Homo sapiens: one gene and its partner. The protein of the gene in region 1 purifies or fractionates together with the protein of each later gene. This does not show direct contact. Each region holds a gene or a part of one and is shown on either strand. Other genes may lie near its edges. The genes, in order: TRUB1 and MTFMT.

The links.
Region 2: the proteins of TRUB1 (region 1) and MTFMT purify together in Homo sapiens (affinity purification with mass spectrometry; 2 studies listed by BioGRID and IntAct, with this or other methods). This does not show direct contact.

What each region holds. Positions count from the first base shown.
Region 1 is NC_000010.11:114,953,172-114,964,486, forward strand, and holds part of TRUB1 (pseudouridylate synthase TRUB1), read left to right. Parts: intron 1-6,554; coding exon 6,555-6,636; intron 6,637-11,315. UniProt on the Homo sapiens protein: Pseudouridine synthase that catalyzes pseudouridylation of mRNAs and tRNAs. Mediates pseudouridylation of mRNAs with the consensus sequence 5'-GUUCNANNC-3', harboring a stem-loop structure. Constitutes the major pseudouridine synthase acting on mRNAs.
Region 2 is NC_000015.10:65,004,656-65,012,639, reverse strand, and holds part of MTFMT (methionyl-tRNA formyltransferase, mitochondrial), read left to right. Parts: intron 1-6,448; coding exon 6,449-6,527; intron 6,528-7,703; coding exon 7,704-7,786; intron 7,787-7,984. UniProt on the Homo sapiens protein: Methionyl-tRNA formyltransferase that formylates methionyl-tRNA in mitochondria and is crucial for translation initiation.

The DNA of each region.
Region 1 (11,315 bases):
CATCATTGACTCTGGTATAAATTTTGTAACAGCCAATTTGCTGTTCAGCTACGAAAGCTGAATGTCATACAGTGAAATCACTGATCCTCAAAATGACTGTAACATAAATAGAATACCACAGGCACGTCTTGTTACAGAAACCTAGTTCTTAGGTATTTCAAAAATAGGCATCGTTGTCTTGTTAGCTATTTATATTTCTTATCCTTTTAATTTTATGTACCTGTTAAAAGAACTAAATCATTAAGAGTTTAATGTTGAAGATTATTTTTTAATAAAAAGTAGTTAAAAACTGTTAATAAATATTTTTTCTTTTTTTAAAAGCACTAGAAGGAATCTTAGAGATCATCTTATCTAGTGACTTTCAAAATTTTTTTGACTAAGACCCATAGTAAGAAACATATTTTATGTAATGACCATATAGATACATACATTTATGAAAAGGAAAAATTTTATCAAACAACTTTGTGTTAGTCTGTTTGTGTTGCTGTAAAGGAGTAGTCGAGGCTGGGTAATTTATAAAGAAAAGAGGTTCATTTGGCTCATGGTTCTGAAGTCTGTACAAGAAACAAGGTACTGGTATCTGCTTCTGGTGAGGGCCTCTGGAAGCTTACACTTGTGGCCATGTCGCATGGTGAGAGAGGGAGTGACAGAGAGAGAGGCGGAGGTGCCAGGCTCTTTTAAACAGCCAGATCTCGCGTGAACTCATTGCAGGGAGGGCACCAAGCAATTAATGCAGGATCCGCCCTCATAACCCAGACAATTCCCACCATGCCCCACCTCCAACACTGGGGATTATATTTCAACATGAGATTTGGAGGGGGCAGACATCCAAACTTTATCCAACTCTAACCCTATGTATGATGTATTCTTGATACTTTTCCTTCTATTTCATTAAAAAAAAAAATGTGGCTGCAGCCCCCTAACTTGGCCCAGATCTAATGTCCACTTTTTCTTCACTTCCTATTTTGACAGATGAATTTTTATTTGCATCACAGTGCAACTAGAAAAATTAGACTTCTGGTATGTGTAGGATGGAGTTACGTCAAGAGTAGAAATATTTAGTTCTAGGATGGCAAATATTCAGTGTTCTTGTTACAGCCATATTACAGAACAGCCTTCTCTCCCTAGCCAGTCGTAATTGGAGATATTGCTAATTGAACATGGCCTAACATTTCTTCTTGCTGAATCAAGAAACACCCTTAGAATCTTCTTCAACATGGTGCCACTTCATACAACTACTGTCACTTACTAGATGAAATTCTGGCTTTTAAGTAAAATCTTTAGGCCATCACATTATTTTGCTTCCATCTGTGAAGACTAGACACTAATCAGACCACCCAAATCATTTCTTGCATTTCCTCCCATTCAGATCAGGGTAAAAGTTAAGAAAAGAGCCACTGCTCTGTGTTCCTCATTGTCTTCCTCTCCTGCCTTGGAGTGAGCTTTGTTCTGCCAGTGATCATATTTCTCAAGTCTTTTTTTTTTTCCCTGTGCCTGATCATTTAGGATTATGTGTATAATGTGTGTGAAAAGCATGTGAACTTTTTGTACAGTGCCTTGTGTATGGAAATTGCTCATTAAATACTGTTATTACTATTCCCAAGTATTTTACTTATCCCCAAGTCTCTCTCTTGAGGTCCAGGCCTGTTGGAGCTTTCTAGCCACATGTTCTGTAGACACCTGAAATTAATTTTACTCAGGCAAGTTCTGTTGGAACTCTTGAATACAGTTAATTTCTTTTTTTTTTTTCATGGCTATCTGTGATTGCTGGTGATGTAGGCAAAATATTGCACTCATCAGAAAGAGAAAGCATGCCAGTTCTTTAAGGGAGAGACAGACTTTCCTTGGACATTAAAGCCAGAAAGAAGTTTCTGACAATAAGAGATATTAAATGACAGATAGATGGTGATTTTCAAAAATAGTTTTACAACAGATGTAGAAATGGAGCTACATAAAATACAGTTTAGGTAAAATTCTGAGAGGTTAGGCTGATGTGTTCCTTTGGCCTAAGTTGATCTAAGTATAAAACGTTGCTTACCTAGAGGAGGGCAAATAGCCCCTCTTATATCTTCCCTAAATTACACTTTCTTTGAGCCAGTCATTCAGCAAAAGCTGGATAGCAGATGTCGTACTTTGAAGGAACAGACAGAAGGAACAGAAGAAAACAGATGAGGTTTTGGAGTGCTGTCTTTATTAGTTTTCTATATTGTTGATCAAAGTTGGTTACTTTATAAATGCTTTAGAAACCAGATGGAAAGGTTATGAAAACCTGAATAATCTAACTAGCATGTCCAGATATAAAGGTACCTCCATATCTCTGTGCAGGTAAACCATAGTGGCACCTGCAGGCAAAGCCAGCATCTCCTCAGAAGGCAACTTTGTATCCCCCTCCAGTAGTTAAACAAGTGTCATCATTGGAGTGAATGAAGTTTCCCCTTCTTGGTGTGGTCAAAGGATAGTAACTTTCCCCAAGAACACAGTAACATTTTTAGGTTAACCAGTTATGAGAACTCTAAAGTGTGGCTTGAGTAATGCTCCTATGAAACTTAGCCAACTCTTGAAGATTTCAGCATTTCTAATCAGTTTTCTCCAGAGGCTAGTCCAGTTTGTACCTTTTCTATATACGCTATTAATTTTCATATATTTCATAAATACTGTATTGAAAATTTTAAAGGGCTTATACTTATGAACTATAAAAAAGGACTGTTCCTTCTTAATGAAGACATTCAAAGCCACATGTTTTTGGTTTGATAGGTTTTTTAAAAAGTGTTCTTTCTCATCCTCAGTAATATCCCTATTTTGTTTGTGAAGGTTTAAATCACAAGCTTTCAAAATCACACCTCAGTTGAGATCCAAGGAAATGATTGTGTGTATACTTTCTGTAGTAGAAACATTTTTCTTTCTCCTAAACAGAACAGAAGCTGATTTGCTGCTAGAGATGTCTAGCTAATACCTGCTGTGGGGTTTAGGGAGCTTGACGATGAGTAAAGTAGAGAGTAGAATAATACCAGTGAGAAACTGTGAGTCCCAGAGAGTACACAGGTCAATGGAATGTTCTTCAGGACCTCTCTTTTGTTGCAGTAGAATTACATTGTAATGAATACAGTAGTAGAATTCACGGTTCCCAGGTATACGTCTTGGAGAATTAACAACTCCAAAGCACAGACTCTACGTAGAATTTAAGCCAGTGAAAAGAAATATTTTAGACTCCATAAGATAAAATGTTAGGGTTGAATGTGTGTATCTCCATGTCTTTTTTCTTCTATCCCAATATCTTTTTGGTCGTGAGGCTTTGTTTCAGCTGAAGGCTTAACTGTGTGGGTGAATTTTTCTAAATGGTTTGTGGATAATTGAATAAAATTGAAGGATAATTATAACTAGATGCCAGGACAAGGGAAAGCTAGGAGACAGCTGATTTCAATCATCGGTTCGCAGGGTGTGGTCTAAGGACTCCTGAGACTCTTTCAGGGTGTCTGTTGAAATTGAAACTATTTTCATAGTTTTGCCTTTTTAACTTGCAATCCCACAAATACATGGTAGAGTTTTTCAGAGATTACTAGATGTGCAATGACATCATTGCTCTGATGGCTAATGGAAGTTTTAAACATTTTTCAGCTTTAATTTCTAATACAATAAATCTAGGCAGATATAACATGTTTTTAAAAAATGTGTGCCAGGGTTTCTCAATAAGTTTTAAGTGTGTATAGGAGTTCTGAAAGCAAAATGTTTGAGAACATTTTGATTTGATTTGATTTGAGAATGTTGATTTAGATATTGTCTCCCCTAAAAAGAATCCAGCACGTAGCTACATACAATATAATTGCAGACCCTGGAGTGGGTTGAGACTTAGCAGATGAAATCTAGATATTCAAAACTATGGTGAAATGTGAAGAATTGCACACATAGGCACTTCTCTAGCATGTGTATCATTCTGTCAGCAACTTTTTATTAAGCTGCTACTGTGTTTCTATTTAGGAAAGAACACAATAGATGAGCAATGGGAAACTCTAGCTGAGAGTTCATACTTGCAGAAAGTAAGGATCAATAAAGTATACTTGGAAAACAGTGAATATCTCTGTAGGTCATCATGTGCTAAGATGTGTGATATGTGTGATATGAGAGCTCAGTGAGATAAACCAGACATGTCTGTTGTTGCCATTATATCCAGTCCTCTCTGCAGTAGTTGTGTTTATTGAAGTTTTCCTGTTACACTGTAACCTCTTAGAGGGAGAGCAATCTATCTTATGTATCTGTGTATCCTTCCCTAGCACTTAGGAGAATACTTTGGACATTCATAGTCCTTAAGAAACATGATCGAATTTGTGGATTTGATATATGCCTTCCTTCTTTCTATGTATGGAATTTGTATCGAGCACCTACTCTTAGTCATGCTGTGGAGGTGGGTAAATGGAAGTTGGGATGGATTAAGGGGTGGCTTTGAAAGCTGAATAAGGTTTGATCCTTAGAGAAGAGTGGGAGTTCAAGGCCAGGGAAGTGGCATATGTGCCCCAGGTGCACAAAACACCAAGAGTCCAGAGACTAGAATGGGCATTGCATACTTGGGAAACATGTTAAGGTTCCTAGTTCAAACTCGTTGCAGAGCAGAATACTGCAGATACATTCAAGGCATAGTCTGCAAGATTGCACCATGGTTTTCTTATGCAACTAAACAGACTCTAAAGACAAAAAAATCATAAAGCATTTTGATGCTTTGCTTTCCTTATGGGAGCTGACTGTAACCAGATGAGTCAACTCTAGCCACTGTTAACTGCGAATCATTCTGTATTTTCTTTCTTAGAAAATAAAGATGATGATGGTATTATTATCTGTTATTTACCAGGGCTAGATATTGTTACTCTAAACTCTTTGCTTCTTCTCATGAGGCATTATTGTTTTCCACATTTTAAGATAAGGAAATTAAGCTCCAGCCGGAAAGACTAACTTGGTCTACAAATTGTGGTACAGTCAGAATTCAAATCCAGCCAGTTGACCCTGAGCCTGTGCTGTTACCATTGTTGTACTTCTCTCATACTTCCCCCTGTGGTATGCTTAGTCGAGGTTGATTGTCCCAAAATATAGAAGCAGGAATGGGTGTCTCAGGTGATGAGACTGTGTTTAGTTACAAAAAACTAATTTTTGTCAATACCTATGAAACTTTAAAAAAATTAATTGAAATGCGTTGGAATATTCCCTTCTGTATTATATTTATTTTTAAAAAATCTGAGCTAGATAATATTAAGGTGATTTCATCGAAGGGCCTTAAGCTGTTATAAAATGTCTGCATACTTACAAGGTTTTGAAGTTTTAATATTTTTCTCATTTTTGTCTTGGGTCCCTTCACTAGCCTCATAAATTTGTCATGAATAAGCTTATATTTCTGCAAAGTACTTTGAGTTTTCTTTTATAAAATTGCTCACATAAATACAGATTATTTTCAGTGGGAAATAAAGTTCTTGCACTTTTTTCACTACTTCATGTGATGCCCCAAATAAAATTTGCGTTTGACCAAAGTGAAAAGAGTACGTACTACAAGTGTGTCCTAAGATGAGAAATAAGACAATCCTCACGTAACTAAGAATGATCTAATTCTTCACTTGTGAATAAAGATCAGTTCTTAGAAACGATTCTTGTTCCTGAGATCTTAAGTAGTAATTTATCTTTATTAAGAAAACACATGGCCGGGCGTGGTGGCTCACGCCTGTAATCCTAGCACTTTGGCTTTGGGAGGCCGAGGTGGGTGGATCACCTGAGGTCAGAAGTTCGAGACCAGCCTGACAACATGGTGAAACCCCATCTCTACTAAAAATACAAAAAATTAGCCGGGCGTGGTGGCGGGTGCCTGTAATCCCAGCTACTCCACAGGGTGAGGCAGGAGAATCGCTTGAACCCGGGGGACGGAGGTTGCAGTGAGCCGAGATCGCACCACTGCACTGCAGCCTGGGCAGCGAGCAAAACTCCATCTCAAACAAACAAACAAACAAAAAACACATTTAATAGTTAAGTCACTAATTCTGTGACTATACTGGTTTTGCTCTTTTTCTACAGATTTAGCTTTTGTTTAATACATGACCTAGTTACTAAGAATTGTCTTAGTATTTCATGTAAGAAGTACTAAGTTGGCTTATTTAAAATTAATTTTAATTGTATATGTGGGAAGATTATTGAATCTTATGATGACCATGGAGTCAAGGCTATTGTACCATTCTCTCTACTCATGGATAGACTTGAACATTTTCCTTAAACAAACTTCTCAGTATAAAGGTGGTTTGAGAAATTTGCTTACAATAATAATGGTCATAATTATTAAGCCATAATTATCAATAAAATCAGGTTTATCTTTCTCATATTGGCTAGTGTGAGACGTTTGTTAATGTTCTTCAGTTTACACAATTGCTTTCCACATATTAAAAACAAAACAATTGCAGTCTGTTGTTTTAGCCTGTATTTTGTATCAGGTTGGTAGTAGTAGTGAAATTCTGTGTAAACTTCAAGACATGCATAACAGTTTTTGTTTGCCTCACGGCCCATTTTCTCTCTTGTTTCCCTTCCTCTAGAGATATACTGCCATTGGAGAACTGGGGAAAGCTACTGATACACTAGATTCTACGGGGAGGGTAACAGAAGAAAAACCTTACGGTATGAAGCTCATCTAATGTAGGCCTCTTTTCTAACATTTAGGAAAAGTTTCTGTGCAGGTAGCATTTTAAAACAAATCTCTGATATTATCAGCCATTTTAATTCTCAGTGTGTTTCTTTGGGCTAAGAAGATTGGAAATTGTTTATCGCATTGTTGCTTACTTGATAGGAGTTTTTGAATAAAGATTTATTGTGATTGCCTCTTTTTCTATAGTGATGTTTTAAGTGTTCAGAATTATTCTTCCAAATAACCTCCTTGCAAAAGCATGTATGGCTAGGATTTAGGTTATTTTCCCTAGTAAACGAGAAACAAAGCAGAGATACTCTGTTAGATTTCATCTGTCTTGCCATTAAAAAAAAATATATTACCTGTCAGCTGTTGAAATAAATGTACCAGGTTTAGTACTTTAAAACTTGTCATGTTTTTGTGCTTTCGGACTATGTAAAAAGAGGACAGAGGGCAAGCTATTTCTCTGGAAGTAAACCAGAACTCACTGGGGCCCACCTTAAGTTTCCTACTATCCCTTCTTTCACTACCGTAAGGAAGAATAGATAAATTAAATGGTCTCCTAGCAACTCTCACAGTGCTTATGCTGTTTATAATGCAGCAATTGCAGTTTTCTAAGTCAGTTCACCTGCATCATTATGTCACCAATTTGTGGACTGTTTTTTTGTTTAGTGTTATCTCTTAGTCATAGGCAAGCCAGCATTTGGCCCCCTTATATTTTTGTGTTGATTATCCTTATTACGTACTGCATATTGCCCCAGTAGTGAGGCCAACCTTTTTATTGTTCATAATAGCTTCATTTTTTCTGTTAACATTTATATGTAGCTTAGTATCTTGCTCAATTAATCAAGCAACATAATGAAAAGAAAAATTACTGATTGATTTCAAGGCTTTTCAAAAACAGATGTTGAAATATTCTTGGAATTATTATTATTAATAAATAATAGCAGACCCTCACTTAACTGAAAGCCAGCTATAACCTTCAACCAGAAGACTTTAAGATTAAGGAGGCATAGGGCAATAGGAGGACGTCAGAGACTTCCAGAGGATACTAAAGTATTTATAAGTACTTATGTAATTAAGTCTCCTGTATCTCTGACTCCATTTACCAAACCATAATAAGGAGAATGATTATTATTCAGAACAGTAGTCCTGGGGTAATATAATTAAGGCTGGGGGGTGTGGGTACCACGTGGTGAAAAATATAAGGCGCACTAGAGTAGACAAATCTGGGTTTAATTTCTAGCTCTGCCCTTATCTAGCTGCGCAAATTTGAAATTTTCTTAGTCTCTTTATGTTGTAGTTTTTCCATCTCCAAAATGACAATAATGATAGCAACCTCATAGTGTGATTATGAGGATTGATTGGAGGAGAATGAATTTGGAGGTCTCATAGACAAGTCATGAGGCTCTTATAGTAGTCCAAGCAGAGATGATGGTAAGTTGGACCAGGGTGCCAGTGGTAGAGACAGAGTTTTCCTATTAGAAAAATTTCCCATGATTAGGAAGTAAAATTAGCAAGACTTGATTTTTAGTTGATTGGACAGGATAGCGAGGAAGTTGTCAACCATGACCTAGGTTTTGGGGTTTTAAAATTGGTTACATGATAGTGTAATTCATTGAGGATGCTGGAAGGGGCCCAGGGTGACAAAAATACTTAAACATATCCTTTCTTCCTATTCTTAAGCATTTTAGTATTTTAAAAAGCTCTATGCTGTATTAGGTAATTTGTAACCTTATTTACTTACCTTAAAGAAAGCTCAGTTTGTTAAATCATCTCATTGTAATGATGCAGTAAATCATAGAGAAACTAAGAACGTTTTTCAGGCTGTGAAGAGAAGAGCTTCCTACAGTTTATTGAATAGTATTTATAGTCCCGGAAAATGAGAGCTCAGAGAATTTTGCTGATTGGCATGATTTTTCTGTGTGCTTTCAGTAAATCAACAAATATTTTTTATTTGTTGAAGCTGCTATAGCAGGTACCAAGGGAAAGATAGATAAATGTAAGACCTAGCTTGTGTCCTTAAGGAACTTACTGTCTAATGGAGAACTCTGACCAATATTCTCAGCCTTCTGAGACCTAATACAGAGACCTATGACCAATATCTTATAATGCCTTCTTTACTATCCTGAAATAAAATTCAGAGATACTTGAATTTACTTATACATTGAGAAAAATCAATATGATGTAGTAAATGGAATATAAGTAAGAAATAAAAGTAATTTATAATAAAGTAGGTGCATTCATATGTAAGCACACAGATATTAGCAGACTAAAAGTCTTTTGGCTGGGGTGCAGTGGTGCACTCTTGGCTCACTGTAACCTCTGCTTCCTGGGTTCAAGTGATTCTTCTGCCTCAGCCTCCTGAGTAGCTGGGACTACAGGCATGCACCACCATGCCTGACTATTTTTTGCATTTTTAGTAGAGGCAGGGTTTCACTTTGTTGGCCAGGCTGGTCTTGAACTCCTGATCAGCACTCAAACATACAGCATAATTGTAAATAGTGAAAAATGCTATTTAGGAATAATAGAGTGTTATGATAGAGAACAAAGGGAAAGGCCCTGTTACATGCTTTGATGTTTGAGTCTAAGCCAGAGACTCATTTTCTTATTCCTCTGAGCTAGCTTTCAGCTGTCTGAAATAACAGTTAAAAATAGTATTTGTCTAGATAGGACAAAATGACTTAAGAACATTAATTTGCCATTGACTGCATACTGAGTTACTTTAGCCAACATCAGTTGTTCTTGACAGGTCAATTAAAAACTGTGTTTCTAGTTGTTACAATGACTGGGTGGGGTGGTGACACCAGCTGCCTTCAGTGGGTGGAGACCAGGGATGACAGATGTCCTGTAACACAGAGGATCGTAGAACACAATGAAGAATTGTCCTGTGTACTGTCAGACTTCAGGATGTCTGCCAGATAGTCATGCAGGTGTATTTCAGCCATGAGGCTGAAACCATGTCTCTTTTGGTCCTCAGTAGTGTATTTTTGGTGTGGTATACGGCATACAGAATGACATATATGACATATAGAGTTTGAATCAAAAAAGATAGGCAGCAGAGGCATTCTCAGAAAAGATGACTGCAGATAAGCCGGGAAAGGCAAAGCATCTTCCTGCCTTCTGCTGCTGTCTTCTCATCCACATCTAGGTATTAAGTGTCTGCTACTATTGCCAGTGTCTCTGAGGACACACAGCTTCAGTGTGCTCATCTGTTCTCCGCTGAGCTAAGGACACTAAGACCATAGCTTCCCAGGCTAGATGTGGACCAAGCATCCGGGAAGGCCTAACTGTCCCTGTACTGGGAGTAGTTTTTTCTGTCCCTCCCATGAGTCAACAAAGGTAGAAAGAAAAGTGGAATCTCATGCTAATCTTTTATTCTAAACACCACCACCCCTTAGTCCTGAGATCAGATGTTACCAAGGTCTTCTCAAATGGACGTAGCTGATGTTGTATCTAATGGTACTGTCTCCTCTTGGACTGTATATGGTTTGGCTGCTGAGACTTATCCTGGAGTAAGCTCAAGAGTTGAATTTAGTTTCAAATTGTGATATGAACCAATAGGGTATATGCTATAATTGGACTAGTGTGTAGCTGGGTATAAAAATTCTTACAAAGCTGTTTGCATTTAAACTTTTCATTATAAAATGTACAAGTAAAGAAAACTGAACAAAAAATAAAGGTACAGCTCTATCAATTTGCACAAGACAAATATCTGTAGCTAGCTATCACCCTTAGTCAAGAAATAGAAGATTGCTAGAAACCACACTTGTGCCCTATCTGTCATTACCCTGTCCTCCTTTTGCAAAGATAACTACTGTTCTAACATCCAATGCTATGGAGATGGTTTTAAAACTAAGGCATAGTTTTGCCTGTTTTTGAATTTAGTATAAATGGAATTAAACACTATGTGTCCTTTGGTGTCTAAATTCTTCCACTTATTATATTTTTGAGATCCATGTTGGTACATGTATGAGTATTTTGGACTTTTTTGTTGCTATGTAGTATGCCACTGTGTGAATATACTACACACATACTCTCCCAGTTTGGGGCTTTGTGAATAAAGTGCTGTGTATATTTTATACCTGCCTTTTGGTAGACACATTTCTACCGTCATTTCTTTTGGGTATATACCCAAGTGGAATATAGGTCGTGTGTGTGTGTGTGTGTGTGTGTGCGTGTGCACGTGTGTGCCTGCATGTGTTCCTGGGTTATAGAGTGGGTGTATATTTAACTGTACTGGAAATTGTCAAACAGTTGTCCAAAGTGATTGTACTTGGAAAACTTTGCATTTCCACTAGGAGTGCATAAGCATTCCACTTGCCCCACATACTTAGCTATTAATAGTGTTTTTAATTTTGGCTGTTCTGGTGAGTGTGTAGTGATAATTCCATTGTGGTTTTAATTTGATTATTGATGAGATTTGGCACCTTATTAAGTGTTTTTGGCTTATTAGCCATCTTCTTTTTTGTATTGTCTGTTCAGGTCTCTTACCCATTTTTTGTTTTTTCTTTCCCTTTTGAGTTGCCTTTTTCTTATACATTTGTATGAGTTTTTGTTTTTTATTAAGCACCTTCCATTCGAGGATGCATAGGTTCTTTATATAGTCTGGATATGTTCTCTTCTTTTGCCTATGTGTGTTGCAGATATTTTCTCTTACTTTGTGGCTTGC
Region 2 (7,984 bases), on another chromosome or scaffold:
TCACTTGAGGTCAGGAGTTTGAGACCAGCCTGGCCAACATGGTGAAACCTCATCTCTACTAAAAATATTTACAAAAATTAGCCAGATATGGTGGTGCACGCTTGTAGTCCCAGCTACTCAGGAGGCTAAGGCACGAGAATCACTTGAACCTGGGAGGTGGAGGTTGCAGTGACCTGAGATCACACCACTGCACTCCAGCCTGGGTGACAGAGTGAGACTCTGTCTCAAATTTTTTTAAAAGTCTAGAAATAAACCCATACATTTATGGTCAATTGATTTTTTTTTCTAAAGGTAGTTCCCAAAAGATAGTTCTTTTTATTATTATTATTATTATTATACTTTAAGTTCTAGGGTACATGTGCACAATGTGCAGGTTTGTTACATATGTATACATGTGCCATGTTGGTGTGCTGTACCCATTAACTCATCATTTACATGAGGTATATCTCCTAATGCTATCCCTCTCCCCTCCCACCCACCTTTTTTTTTTTTTTTTTTTTTTTTTTTTTTGACAAGAGTGCCAAGACAATCCAATGGAGAAAGAATAGTATTCTCAATAAATGGAGCTGGGATAACTGGATGTCCACAATCAAAAGAATGAATTTGGACCCTATGTCACATCATATGTAAAAGTTAAAGAAGCTAAATGAATAGCTAAAACTAGAAAACTCTTAGAAGAAAATATAGGTGTAAATATTCATGACATTGAATTAGGCAGTGGTTTCTTAGCTATGATGCCATGAAGCATAAGCAATCAGACTAAAAATAGAGAAATTGGACTTCATCAAAATTAAAAATAGTTGTGCTTCAAAGGACACTATCAACAAAGTAAAAAAGACAGGTAGGCCAGGCATGGTGGCTCATGCCTATAATCCCAGCACTTTGGGAGGCTGAGACAGGAGGACTGCTTGAACCCAAGAATTTGAGACCAGACTGGGCAATGTAGTGAGTCCCCATCATTACAAAAAGTAAAAAATTAGCTGGGCATCATGGTGCACACCTGTGGTCCTAGCTACTTGGGAGGCTGGAATGGGAGGATGCACTTGAGCCAGGGAGGTCGAGGCTGCAGTGAGCTGTGATTGCACTACTGTGTTTCATCCTGGGTGACAAAGTGAGACCCTGTCTCAAAAAAAAAAAAAAAAAAAAAAAAAAAAGACAGCTTACAGAATGGGAGGGAATATTTGCAAATCATATAACTGATAAGGGCCTAATATCCAGAGTAAAGAATTCTTACAATGACTCAGCAGTAAAACGACAAATAACCCAATTAAAAATGGCCAAAAATTCTGAGTAAACATTTCTTTTTTGTTTGTTTTTGAGATGGAGTCTTGCTCTTGTTGCCCAGGCTGGAGTGCAATGGTGCGACCTTGGCTCATTGCAACCTCTGCCTCCTGGATTCAAGCGATTCTCCTGCCTCAGCCTCCCTAGTAGCTGGGATTATAGGCAAGCGCCACCACGCCCGGCTAATTTTTGTACTTTTAGTAGAGACGGGGTTTCACCATGTTGACCTGGCTGGTCTCGAACTCCTATCCTCAGGTGATCCACCTGCCTCAGCCTCCCTAAGTGCTGGGATTACAGGCATGAGCCACTGCCCTGGCCCTGAGTAGACATTTGTTTCAAGCAGATACATAATATGAATGGCCAGTAAGCATATAAAAGATCAGCAACTTCATCTGTCTTTAGGGATATGCAAATCAGAACCACAATGAGATACCACTTCACACCCATTAGGATGGCTATAATTCAAAAAACAGACAAAAACTAGTGTTGGCAAGGATGTGGAGAAATTTGGAAACTTCATACATTCATGGTACCATGTTTACCTCTTAAAAATGGTGCAACCTGTGTGGAAAACAGTTTGGCAGTTCCTCAAAAAGTGAAACACAGAAGTATCTTATGACCCAGCATTTCCTTTCCTAGGTTTATACTCAAGAGAATTGGAAACATTGTGCTCACACAAAAATGTGTACCCGAATCTTCATAGCAGCATTATTCAGAATGGCCAAAAAGTGAAAACAACCCAAATATCCAACTGAGGGATGCGTTAAAAAAATGTGGTATATAGCCATACGGTGGAATATTATTAATACTCAGCCATAACCATAATCACATGCTTATGACATGGATGAACCTGAAAAATATGCTAAGTGAAAAAACCCTGTCACAACAGACTACATATGTTATTATTCCATTTATATGAAATGTCCAAAATAGGCAAATCCATAGGCTGGAGGAGAGAGGATAATGGGAATTTTCTGATAATGGATGGCGTTTTTTCTGGGAGAGAGAGGTAATGAAAATGTTCTAAAAATTAGGCAAGAAAAAAACGAGTGACATTGGTTGAATGACCCTGAGTCTACTAAAAACCACTGACTTGGAAGCTTCAAAAGGGTGAATTTTCTGGTATGTGAATTACATCTCAATAAAGCTGTCAAAAAACAAAACAAAACAAAAAAACAACCCAAGATGGAAAAGAGTTGGACATGTTTGAGGGACAGAAATGAGGCTGGTGTGGCTGGAGCATAGCTGGCAAGATGGAGAGTAGCTAAGGTGAGGGGAGAAGCAAGATTGAGTAGGATTGACATCAGAGGGCCACGGCAGGGGAGTAATGGGATTAGGTATGTACATTCTTAAAAGGTTGCCCTGGCTGCTGCTAGAGAGTGGAGTGGAGGTCAGTTAGGGAATTGGTTGGGTGTGGTGGCTCACACCTGTAATACCAGCACTTTGGGAGGCCAAGAAGAGTGAATCGCTTGAGCCCTGGAGTTCCAGACCAGTCTGGGCAACATGGTGAAACCCTGTCTCTACAAAATATACAAAAATTAGCTAGGTATTGTGGGATGCACCTGTAGTCCCAGCTACTCGGGAGGCTGAGGTAGGAGGATCACTTGACCCTGGGAGGTTGAGGCTGCAGTGAGCTGTGATTCCACCACTGCACTTCCAGCCTGGATGACAGAGCAAGATCCGGTCTTTAAAAAAAAAAATTAAAAAAATAAAAAGAAGCTGCTGCGACTGTAGCCAGATGACAGATGATGGCAGTTTGGAACAATGATAATGGTGGATAAAAAGAAGTGGACATCCAGACTATGCTTGGAGATAGAGTCAGCGGAATTTGCTGATGGAATCTGGGAAATTAGAGATAGATAAATTAGGATCATTCATAGATTTTTGGCTTGAGAAACTGGGTGAATAGTGGAACCATTTAATTGAGATGAGGATGTCTGGGGAGGAACATTTGGGAAGAGAAATCAATAGTTTTGGCCATGTTAAGTTTGACATATATTAAGTTAGAAGACGTTCATATGGAGATATCAAGTAGACAACTTCCTGAGATGCAATTTAGGCCAGTAGCTTGAAATCTCTTGGCACCTATAACTTACTACATGATGATTCTTACCCTCTGCGGTTTATCTTCCCTGTACATGGAGAAAAGCTTTGTGCTATAAAAGACTGAGCCAGAAGGTGGGGTTTGGTTCCTAGAGTTGCCCTTTACTAATGAGAGGAAGGCCCTTGTCTTTGAGCTTCTGCTTTTTTTACCTCTAAAGTGGGATTAATGACCATGTACACAACTGGCAAGATCAAAGGAAATGAACTAGGTGAATGTAAATTCATGCAAACATACTATTTTGGCAGTAATGATGGCAGACACCAAAATGATTATATTCTTACCATCCCTTTCCTTTCTACAATGCTCTGATGATAAGGTGAGCTTTACCTCCCGAAGAACAAGACTATATTCTGAGTATGTACCTAGCATGTTTATTACTCTCAGTAAATAGAAATCTTTTTTAGTCAGTAAGCATGTTTCAAAAATATTTTGAGTTATTTAAAAGAAAAAAATTGCACATATGAAAATCGTTTCAGAACTTTTATTGAAGCGGGCAAAAGAAAAGTGAGCTAGCAAGTTATAGAAGAGGCTATGACATAGATACAGTTATGAACTTGTTCTTCAAATTCATTTACTTATTTGATTTAATGTTCAAATTATTACAACAACCTAACTCTTCTGAAAGTTAAATACCCTCTTTAAGGGGTGTCATAAAAAGAGCACTGCACTGAGAATCAGAAAACAGAAGCCAGTCCTGGCTTTGCTACTAACTAGCTGGGTCCAACCTTGGGAAAATAGCTGCATTTCTCTGAGCCTCACTCTCTTCATGTATGAAATAGAGGATTGAACTACAGTCTGGAAATAAATGCATTCAATTCAGAAATTTTAGAGAACTTATTTCCTGGTGTGTGTTAAATTTTATTAACATTTAAATCAGGCTGTAGGATCTCAGGTATGTTGGAAATGTGTTACATGATAAAGGTGGTATTTCATACTGGAGGGAAGGGTAAGATGGATTATCTAGTAAATAGTATTGGGATAACTGGCCAACCATTGGTGGGGGAAGCCCTCAAATCCTATCTTTTAAAATCATAGTAAGTGCTATATTATAACAATGCATATGTAGTTAACAATACTGTATGGTATACTTACAATTTGTTAATTGAGCACATTTTTCTTATGTGTTTTTTACCATAATAAAAAAATCAAAATATAGATGGATCAAGGATTTAAATATAAAAAGTAAAATCACAAGGACTATAAAAAAGCACAACTGAATAATTTGACAATATTTAATAATCTTAAAGTGTGGGGTAGGCCTTTTTAAGTATGATACGAACCACCAAAGTAATGAGAGAAAAGACTTAGAAATATAATTATGAAAATAAAAAACTTATGCATGGAAAAAATGGCTGTCCCCAAGATTAAAAGTCAACAAACTGAGGAAAATATTCACAACACATGTAAGAGTTAAAAGGCTAATTTCCTAAATATAGAAAATATTTTTGCAAATTAATGAGATAACCATCCCAGTTTTAAAAAATATAACCAAAGGGCATAAATAGGCAGGTTACAGATAAATAAATTAAAAGTGCACATAAATATATGGACAGCTTCTCAGCTTCGCTAATAATAAACAGCAAGAGATTATCATATTTTTTTCTCACTTATCCAGGCAGTTTAGCAATAAAATGTTGATGCTGTTTAACCCACGCATTCCACTTTAAAAACAAAAAACCCCAAAACTATTATCCAGAAATGTGTAAGCCCTCAAAGATATATCGACAAGGTTATTACCCTAGTTTATAGTGTTATAAATAGCAATAAATTGAAAATAACAAATATCTATCATAAAGGTAGTTGCATAAATTACATATTCATAAAATGGGTTACTGTGCAGCAGATAGAGTGAAATTGATAAGTATGTACTGATGAAACATCAATGCTTTATGGTCACATAACAAAAGTCCTTGTAAAACAGTATTGATGCAGGACTTTTTGCTCCTTAACTCAGCTAAAATCTGGGTTCTTGTCTCACAACCAGGAAAAATTAGGCACGTGGACACATTGAAAGGTGAGGAGAGTGGAATTTATTAAAAGAAAGCTCTCAGCAAAAAAAGAGGGGGTCCTGCCAACAGGCTCCCACCTCACAGATTGAATACCAGGCCACCACACAGGAGCTGAAGAGGCCAGGCTCTTCCCCTGCATAAGGCAGAAATTCCTGGTGGCTCCACCCCCATTCTTCCAGTGCTCATGCGGGCCCTTAGTCTGAGCCACGCCACCTTGATTTATTTCCTTTACTGTGCATGTGTTAAGGGACAGAACTTTTCACCATGGACATGTTGAGTCAAGCCCACTGTGCATAATGACCTGGGTGGCATTTGGCTGTCTCCTGTCTCTATCACTGTGTTCTAGATTTTTATAATAATATTTGTAGAAAAAAATACAGGGAAATGCACATCAAACTTAACAGTCGTTACCTATAGGGATGGGAATAAATACAGAATATCACTTTCTAAAATTTTTTAACATAATGTAATGCTTGCATTTTTTATAAGGATAATAAATTTTTAATTGGAAATATTAGTATATTAGATATAAACATTGATTTTAAAGTAACATTTAAGATCTTATAAATCGGCCGGGCGCGGTGGCTCACGCCTGTAATCCCAGCACTTTGGGAGGCTAAGGCGGGCGGATCATGAGGTCAGGAGATAGAGACCATCGTGGCTAACATGGTGAAACCCCGTCTCTACTTAAAATACAAAAAATTAGCCGGGCATGGTTGCAGGCGCCTGTAGTCCCAGCTACTCGGGAGGCTGAAGCAGGAGAATGGCGTGAACCCGGGAGGCGGAGCTTGCAGTGAGCCAAGATCGCGCCACTGCACTCCAGCCTGGTGACACAACGAGACTCCGTCTCAAAAAAAAAAAAAAAAAGATCTTATAAATCCTGGAAACACTGATGTAGAGAGTCATGTTTACGGTCTGTTCCATCAAACTTAGTGACTGAGTTCCCAATTCCTCTAATTGAAAGAAAAGTCCAGATTAACACAAAATAGTAGTTGAAAAGGGTTTGGGAGTTGAGTGTATTCCTTTATCATACCTTCTTTAATTTTACTTGCAGATTCCGTTGCAGACGCTCTGGATGGCGAATACCATTAAACTTCTGGATTTGGTAGAAGTTAACAGTTCAGTCCTTGCTGGTACTAACTTTTGAATAGCTAACATGGAAGCTGTTTTCACTGTAGTGTATCTGGAAATACGTCTGTTTTATCATATGTCACAATTACTAAAAATAACTTTTAGTTTGTTTCAGTTCAGTAATTATAATACTTTACATTCACTTATTGTCTTATTCTTTGCAACACTCATTCTCATATATTTTCTCATTTAATCATTACAAGAACAGGCCAGGCGCGGTGGCTCACGCCTGTAATTCCAGCACTTTGGGAGGCCAAGGTGGGTGGATCAGCTGAGGTCAGGAGTTCGAGACTAGCCTGACTGACATGGTGAAGCCCCGTCTCTACTAAATACAAAAATTTAGCTGGGCATGGTGGCACATGCCTGTAATCCCAGCTACTTGGGAGGCTGAGGCAGGAGAGTCACTTGAACCTGGGAGGCAGAGGTTTCAGTGAGCCAAGATTGCGCCGCTGCACTCCAGCCTGGGCAATGAGTGAAACTCCATTTCAAAAAAAAAAAAAAAAAAATCATTACAGGACCCTGGGGAGTAGGCAAAGCAGTGTTCCTATCCCATTTTAAGCTCTGTGATTTCCTGCCTTAAGGTTTTCAGAGAGTGCAGAATGACTCGATTAGTTTCATTCTGGTGAATATTATAATGAAAATATCTGGGCAAATCAGTGAAAATCTAGGCCAGAGTGTATTCATACTTCATGCCACAAGTCCATTCTGAGGCCCATCAGCATCCTGCCAATACGGTGGACAGAAGGAATGTGAGCCACAGAGGAAGCTGGTTTAATTTAGAGGTAGTTGGAGTTCCCCAGGAACCTAGGAATTAGGATTTGTTTGGGCAGGGATGAAAGGGCCAGCCTAAATCCTAAACATCCTATGTATTTCCCCCTGTTGGCTAGTTATTTCACCAAAGCGCTAACACAAAACTTGTAGATTCAGCATTTTAGGTGGTCACTGGGTAAAGGAATTATAGCTTTGTATGTGCATGGGAAGCTTTCCTTTGGGTTTCTGATGTACAGAGAGCACTGTGGTTTCCTTGTAAGTTTTGGTTTACAAAGTCAACATCAGCAAATGTGTTCTCTCCGGTATCAGTACTGCCTCCCAAGATGTTTTTTGATTTTTAAGAAGTACTATGAAGTTGCATAATTGCTTTTTTCTCTTGTATATCTTTTCTTTTTTCCATTCTTCAGATCCAAAATTAACGGGACAGGCTCTTATTCCAGGATCAGTAATATACCACAAACAGTCACAAATACTATTGGTTTATTGCAAGGTATGTTTTTCATTAGTTTCAAGTTATCATAGTTGTTTTACTATGTTATAGTCTGTATCATTTATTATTTTTAGTTGGAACTTCACTTAACTGCCTGTCCATAGATTGGGTCAGGAGATCATTTAATTTTCTTAAGAAATAGTGAAGTCTCTAGCATAATTTTTTGAAAGTGATGAAGTTTTGCCAAGGCATTATTAT